Linked DNA regions of Homo sapiens. The protein of the gene in region 1 interacts with the protein of each later gene in a biochemical or structural test. Each region holds a gene or a part of one and is shown in the gene's direction. Other genes may lie near its edges.

Region 1 (3,500 bases):
TCGCTAGGTCAGCCCATGGGGCCACGGTGTACAGTGACAAGCTGTGGATCTTTGCTGGCTATGACGGCAACGCCAGGTGGGTGGTGGTCCGGCCTGTGCACCCCACCTCCGACAGCACTGAGACCCGGAGCAGGCCGTCCTGGCATTTGAGGGCTTAGGCTGGGAGGATTTTGAGTGCCTGGTGGATTTTGAGTGCCACTCTGTCTGGGGGTTTCTTGGGAGGGGGATGGGGAAAGAGGAGGATGGACAGATGGAGGTGAGGGCCACTGGGTGGAGCCCCGTGGCTACCAGAGTAGCTTGGATGAGGATCCTCAGCCAGGAGTTGCCCTGCGGAGCTGAGTTGGTGGGCGGGTGGGCGGTGCCCAGGCTCAGGCCCAGCCCTGGTTCTTGCCCAGGCCAAAGGCCTTTTCCTCCTTATTTTAGAAAGTTGGCTTTGCTCTCTTTTTCTGATCACAAAAGTAGCATATGCTGGTTTCCCAAAACTTCAGCATCATAGAAACTCCTAACGATGCAGTGATGGTGGCATCTGGGATATCTGTGTCCTCTCCCCACCCAGGAGGGACACTGAGTGAGGAGCTGGCACTGCCACACTGCCCTGATGTCATGCATGAGAGTACTTGTTCTGTCTGGGCCGGGCAGGGGGCCTGGCACAGCAGGGATTTGAGGCAGTGGCTGCCACCCCACACAGAAGTTCCCGCCTCATGGCCGCACAAGTCTCCTACCCTGTGTGGGGGTGGGGCTCCTCCCTGCAGCCATCCCTTCCAGCCAGGACTAGGCCCACCCTGACCACCAGACCCAAGGGGTCCTCACTGGTCTGTCCTAATACAGGTTGAATGACATGTGGACAATTGGCCTCCAGGACCGAGAGCTCACCTGCTGGGAGGAGGTGAGGGGCGTGGGGAGCCAGGGCGCAGGTAGAGGAGGTGAGGGGCACGGGGAGCCAGGGCGCAGGTGGAGGAGGTGAGGGGCATGGGGAGACAGGGTGCAGGTGGAGGGAGGTGGGAGGCAGGGGGAGCCAGGCTGGGGGTCGAGGCTGCTTTCTTCCCCTTGCAAAGCCCAGCCTCGACCTGAGCCTCGCTCTCCTCCCTGGTGACCTGCGGGCCTTCACGACCAGTTCCTCACTGTGGCTGCACAGTGATTCGAGGTTTGGTGCTTTGGATGGGCAGAGTGCCACGTGTGTGAGGATGTGGTTTTGCTTTAACGCACCCTTTATTTCAGTGCAGTGAGGGCCGTCTGCTATCCAGTGTCCTGCTCCCTGGAGCTCCCCCTGGGCTTGCTTTCCCCTTTAGAAACATGGAATTTATTTATTTATTCATTAAAAAAAATTGTTTTTCAGTCTTCTGGGCATGAAAAACATGAGTTTAGCCCCTGATGATTTAACCCTGACGATTTTAACCCCAGCTGTTCACAACTGGGCCCCGTGAAGTGGATGAGACAGGGCTATGAGCTGTTCCAAGACAAAGGAATCTGTGAATCCTCATCTGGGGAAGTTTCAAGAATAAAAGCAGTCCCATCTCAGCAGTCTCGAGTGTGGTGAAATGTGAGCGGGCCCTGTGAGGCCGGGGCTGAGCTGTCCTCTCCCCCTGCAGGTGGCCCAGAGTGGCGAGATCCCCCCATCTTGCTGCAACTTCCCCGTGGCTGTGTGCCGGGACAAGATGTTTGTATTCTCTGGGCAAAGCGGAGCCAAAATAACCAACAACCTCTTCCAGTTTGAATTCAAGGACAAGACGTGAGTACTCTGGCCAGTGGGGTGGAGGGAGGACGGTCAGTTCCCTCGAATCCTTCTGAATATGAAGAACGCCTCTTGCACCTGGTGGCCATGGTAACCATCCTTGTGAGCTCTGCAAACAGCAGGAGGTTACAGCCCGGAGCAGGGATGTGCGGTGCCCCTGGCAGGTCCCCAGGATATGGCTACAGCTTAGCAAGATAAGGCCTGGCGAGGAGGCCCCTGGCTAGGCCTCCCTCTGAACGTGAAGGACGTCCCCTTCCTCGTGAATAGCTTGGTCAGTGCCACCAGTAACAGACGTGGCCTGCATAGATCTCAAATAATGGCAGAAGACCAGAGGGGCCTGCAGGTCCTGAGAGGTCTGGCCCATGCTGCCCCTGGCTGCTGGCCAGCCCTTGATCCCTGCAATGGGGCTGCAGGAGAGGGCACAAGGAGTGTGAGCTGCAGGTACAGGGGGTTTGGGAAGGGACTTGGGAGCTTCCCTGGAGGCCACGGGTGCGTGGGAGGAAGGGCAGGGAGCCCCAGGATGAGGGAAATTGTCAAGGGCCTGGGGCTCAGCATGGAGCCAGATGGCATAGCCCTGCCAGGCCAGGATCTGTTCTGAAGTCTTCAGCTAACTTAGCAAAAGAGAGGACTTGCTGGGAGGTACTGGGAAGCCTGGGAGGTGGAAGGTGCTGGGGCAGCATCAGGATGTGGGGTACAGGCAGCTCCCAGGATGGGGACTCAGCTGTGGGGATGCTCTGACTGGGCAGCGTGAACACAGTGACCTGCAATGGTCTCTGCACAACTTTACTCCCCAGAGAGCAGGACTGCCTGGGCGGGTCAGATGCCACCCTCCTGCCCATCACTGCTGCCTGCTCCATGGGGAGAGGGGGGAGCTCTGGCAGGACCCTGCGGTGGGCCACATGGAGCCAGGCAGGGCTGGTGCCCGTGCTGGATGGGGTGAGAGGTGCTCAGCGCAGGTGTCTAGGCCCTCCCTCTGGACCCTGGGCTAGTCACCGTAAGGGATGCAGGGGGACCTCCCAGTGAAGGCCTGCTGTGGGGAGGCCCCGAGGGTGAGCAGGAGCCCCTGTCCCAGCATTGATTCACTGTTGTGTACCCCCAGGTGGACACGCATCCCAACTGAACACCTGCTCCGGGGCTCCCCACCACCCCCGCAGCGGCGCTACGGGCATACCATGGTGGCCTTTGACCGCCACCTCTATGTGTTTGGGGGTGCGGCCGACAACACGCTGCCCAACGAGCTGCACTGCTATGACGTGGACTTCCAGACCTGGGAGGTCGTCCAGCCCAGCTCCGACAGCGAGGTGAGGGTGCCCAGGGGTGTCCTGACCTGCCAGCTGGACACCAGTAGCTCCTACCCTGCTCCCACCCAGCTCCTCACAGCTTTGGGGCCCCCTGGGGTTCCAGACAGCTACCAGGAGCAAGGCCAGGACACCTGGGCCTCAGCCCTGGACACCTGCCCCGGCCTCCAGCCCCAGCTTCACCCCACAGCCTGCAGGTAGTTAACGCTTCACACCCCATCATGGCTGCATGGGGCTGCTGTGCTGCAGACCTTTCCTGGGAAGCCCACGGCCATGCAGCTCTTCCTTCTTTCAGAACCCACTCTCAAGGCCAGGATGGTGGGGGTCTCTGGGCACCTACCTGGCCCTTGCCAACTGGTCTCATGCCCATGTGTCTCCCCTCTTCAGGTTGGTGGGGCTGAAGTGCCCGAGCGAGCCTGTGCTTCCGAGGAGGTGCCCACCCTGACCTATGAGGAGCGGGTTGGCTTCAA
Region 2 (4,603 bases), on another chromosome or scaffold:
ACAGTGAAGTGCCTTTTTCCTAGAAGTGGTTTGTAGACTTCCTTTATAATATTTCAGTGGAATAGATGTCTCAAAAATCCTTATGCATGAAATGAATGTCTGAGATACGTCTGTGACTTATCTACCATTGAAGGAAAGCTATATCTATTTGAGAGCAGATGCCATTTTGTACATGTATGAAATTGGTTTTCCAGAGGCCTGTTTTGGGGCTTTCCCAGGAGAAAGATGAAACTGAAAGCACATGAATAATTTCACTTAATAATTTTTACCTAATCTCCACTTTTTTCATAGGTTACTACCTATACAATGTATGTAATTTGTTTCCCCTAGCTTACTGATAAACCTAATATTCAATGAACTTCCATTTGTATTCAAATTTGTGTCATACCAGAAAGCTCTACATTTGCAGATGTTCAAATATTGTAAAACTTTGGTGCATTGTTATTTAATAGCTGTGATCAGTGATTTTCAAACCTCAAATATAGTATATTAACAAATTACATTTTCACTGTATATCATGGTATCTTAATGATGTATATAATTGCCTTCAATCCCCTTCTCACCCCACCCTCTACAGCTTCCCCCACAGCAATAGGGGCTTGATTATTTCAGTTGAGTAAAGCATGGTGCTAATGGACCAGGGTCACAGTTTCAAAACTTGAACAATCCAGTTAGCATCACAGAGAAAGAAATTCTTCTGCATTTGCTCATTGCACCAGTAACTCCAGCTAGTAATTTTGCTAGGTAGCTGCAGTTAGCCCTGCAAGGAAAGAAGAGGTCAGTTAGCACAAACCCTTTACCATGACTGGAAAACTCAGTATCACGTATTTAAACATTTTTTTTTCTTTTAGCCATGTAGAAACTCTAAATTAAGCCAATATTCTCATTTGAGAATGAGGATGTCTCAGCTGAGAAACGTTTTAAATTCTCTTTATTCATAATGTTCTTTGAAGGGTTTAAAACAAGATGTTGATAAATCTAAGCTGATGAGTTTGCTCAAAACAGGAAGTTGAAATTGTTGAGACAGGAATGGAAAATATAATTAATTGATACCTATGAGGATTTGGAGGCTTGGCATTTTAATTTGCAGATAATACCCTGGTAATTCTCATGAAAAATAGACTTGGATAACTTTTGATAAAAGACTAATTCCAAAATGGCCACTTTGTTCCTGTCTTTAATATCTAAATACTTACTGAGGTCCTCCATCTTCTATATTATGAATTTTCATTTATTAAGCAAATGTCATATTACCTTGAAATTCAGAAGAGAAGAAACATATACTGTGTCCAGAGTATAATGAACCTGCAGAGTTGTGCTTCTTACTGCTAATTCTGGGAGCTTTCACAGTACTGTCATCATTTGTAAATGGAAATTCTGCTTTTCTGTTTCTGCTCCTTCTGGAGCAGTGCTACTCTGTAATTTTCCTGAGGCTTATCACCTCAGTCATTTCTTTTTTAAATGTCTGTGACTGGCAGTGATTCTTTTTCTTAAAAATCTATTAAATTTGATGTCAAATTAGGGAGAAAGATAGTTACTCATCTTGGGCTCTTGTGCCAATAGCCCTTGTATGTATGTACTTAGAGTTTTCCAAGTATGTTCTAAGCACAGAAGTTTCTAAATGGGGCCAAAATTCAGACTTGAGTATGTTCTTTGAATACCTTAAGAAGTTACAATTAGCCGGGCATGGTGGCCCGTGCCTGTAGTCCCAGCTACTTGAGAGGCTGAGGCAGGAGAATCACTTCAACCCAGGAGGTGGAGGTTACAGTGAGCAGAGATCGTGCCACTGCACTCCAGCCTGGGTGACAAGAGAGACTTGTCTCCAAAAAAAAAGTTACACCTAGGTGTGAATTTTGGCACAAAGGAGTGACAAACTTATAGTTAAAAGCTGAATAACTTCAGTGTGGTATAAAACGTGGTTTTTAGGCTATGTTTGTGATTGCTGAAAAGAATTCTAGTTTACCTCAAAATCCTTCTCTTTCCCCAAATTAAGTGCCTGGCCAGCTGTCATAAATTACATATTCCTTTTGGTTTTTTTAAAGGTTACATGTTCAAGAGTGAAAATAAGATGTTCTGTCTGAAGGCTACCATGCCGGATCTGTAAATGAACCTGTTAAATGCTGTATTTGCTCCAACGGCTTACTATAGAATGTTACTTAATACAATATCATACTTATTACAATTTTTACTATAGGAGTGTAATAGGTAAAATTAATCTCTATTTTAGTGGGCCCATGTTTAGTCTTTCACCATCCTTTAAACTGCTGTGAATTTTTTTGTCATGACTTGAAAGCAAGGATAGAGAAACACTTTAGAGATATGTGGGGTTTTTTTACCATTCCAGAGCTTGTGAGCATAATCATATTTGCTTTATATTTATAGTCATGAACTCCTAAGTTGGCAGCTACAACCAAGAACCAAAAAATGGTGCGTTCTGCTTCTTGTAATTCATCTCTGCTAATAAATTATAAGAAGCAAGGAAAATTAGGGAAAATATTTTATTTGGATGGTTTCTATAAACAAGGGACTATAATTCTTGTACATTATTTTTCATCTTTGCTGTTTCTTTGAGCAGTCTAATGTGCCACACAATTATCTAAGGTATTTGTTTTCTATAAGAATTGTTTTAAAAGTATTCTTGTTACCAGAGTAGTTGTATTATATTTCAAAACGTAAGATGATTTTTAAAAGCCTGAGTACTGACCTAAGATGGAATTGTATGAACTCTGCTCTGGAGGGAGGGGAGGATGTCCGTGGAAGTTGTAAGACTTTTATTTTTTTGTGCCATCAAATATAGGTAAAAATAATTGTGCAATTCTGCTGTTTAAACAGGAACTATTGGCCTCCTTGGCCCTAAATGGAAGGGCCGATATTTTAAGTTGATTATTTTATTGTAAATTAATCCAACCTAGTTCTTTTTAATTTGGTTGAATGTTTTTTCTTGTTAAATGATGTTTAAAAAATAAAAACTGGAAGTTCTTGGCTTAGTCATAATTCTTATATTCACTGAAGTGCCTTTATAGAATGCTAATATTAATTTCAAACTTTTGGATGTGACATTTGGAAGTGTTGGAATATCTGAGTTCCTCATTTCATCATAACATCAAATATATCAAAGCCTGCTTTAAAGTATTACCTTGGGGATGATTCATAGCTATTTGTCAGATTTGCATACATTAAGATGCCATTGGAGCTCTTTTGTCTCGTTTTTGCATTACTGCACAATCTAGCCATCTTGGTATAGGTGGAGGAGCATTGATGCTAGGGGCTGGAGAACTTGAGGCCCGATATAATTTTACTACGCCGGCCCAGTTTCTTCAATTGCAAAATAGAAGAGTTGAATTAGGATATATCAGATTTCCCAACCTTAAGGAGACTTTAAAAAGAATAATATCAAACCTAGGCATTTTCAACTAACACTGGAATACTAATTTTGGAGACCTTGGTTTACTCTACCAAAGACATCAAAATTTTTTTTCACTTTTTTTTCTTGAAAAGGAGGCAGGGAAGGTAGGTCATTAACATGTGGCTGAAGTAAGCTTGGGAAAACCAATTTTAAATGACAATATTTTTTCTAGCTAGGACAACTAGAAAGAGTAAATATTTTAATTATAAAATGTATTTGAAAAAGAAATAGAATTAGGGAATTTGTATCTTTCAAACTATCACCTCATATAGAGACCTAGGTGATAGTTTGAGAGAGAAACATACAAAGTCCACAGTTCTATTTCTTTTTCATATACATTTTACAAAAATTTGTTCTAATGTTTGACCCTCTAATAACGGAAAAGAGGAAAGGATGTTTTCTGGTGAGAACTGCTGTTCTGTTCAGCAAAATAAAGCTACAGAAACAAATAATGAGAAGGTACCTAAAGAAGCTTGTTTATTTGGAATATGAGGGAACCACCTGTGCATCTCTGTGCTATTAAGGTTTCTGTTCTCATAAGCAATATTTAAGGTCACTGAAAGGCCAACATAGTTGCATGAGTTATTTGATACCCATAAATACATGAGAAGAGGCCAAGAGGCCTTGCTAGTGATCATTTCGCAAAACTGTCTGAGGATGTCCAGCTCCATGAGAGCACAGAGAGAATCACTGTCCAGTTTCCAAGTGGGAAGGGTATGCTTTGTAATGCTTTTAAAAGTAACTGGGCAGTGAAATGTGACCCTTTACCTTAATAAAAGACAGCTGGAACTTCAGGAACATACAAAATAGAAATATTCTTTCCAGTTGCAAAAGGAACATAAGAGGGTTCAGATTCATGAACCAAGAGTTGAGTTGACCATTCTTATTTGCAGTTGAATTCTACCATATGATTTACTTCACACTTGCACCGAAATAGTCTATTATAAACTACTGGTGTTGGGGGTGGGGCGGGAGTGGGAATGGGGAATGAAGGGGAGGAATGAACTTAGTTTCTTAACTAGTATAAATTCAGATTACCATCAACTTGTAGAAGCCATATGAAGTAAAAATGGGTAGCACCTGCAACACTGGGACTTAGCGTGCTATTAAATGTTTCTAAAGATAGAGGCACGTAGCTACATGTCTCATAGGGGAGGATGTGGTTGTAGCTAGCAGTTGCCTACTAGCAGGCTTCTT

What was found. The genes of interacting proteins can lie anywhere in the genome.
Region 2: of the proteins of LZTR1 (region 1) and NRAS, one has a biochemical effect on the other in vitro, tested with the Homo sapiens proteins (one study listed by BioGRID).

What each region holds. Positions count from the first base shown.
Region 1 is NC_000022.11:20,988,797-20,992,296, forward strand, and holds part of LZTR1 (leucine-zipper-like transcriptional regulator 1), read left to right. Parts: coding exon 1-76; intron 77-828; coding exon 829-886; intron 887-1,589; coding exon 1,590-1,729; intron 1,730-2,831; coding exon 2,832-3,033; intron 3,034-3,417; coding exon 3,418-3,500. UniProt on the Homo sapiens protein: Substrate-specific adapter of a BCR (BTB-CUL3-RBX1) E3 ubiquitin-protein ligase complex that mediates ubiquitination of Ras (K-Ras/KRAS, N-Ras/NRAS and H-Ras/HRAS).
Region 2 is NC_000001.11:114,702,860-114,707,462, reverse strand, and holds the end of NRAS (GTPase NRas), read left to right. Parts: 3' UTR 1-2,994; downstream 2,995-4,603. UniProt on the Homo sapiens protein: Ras proteins bind GDP/GTP and possess intrinsic GTPase activity.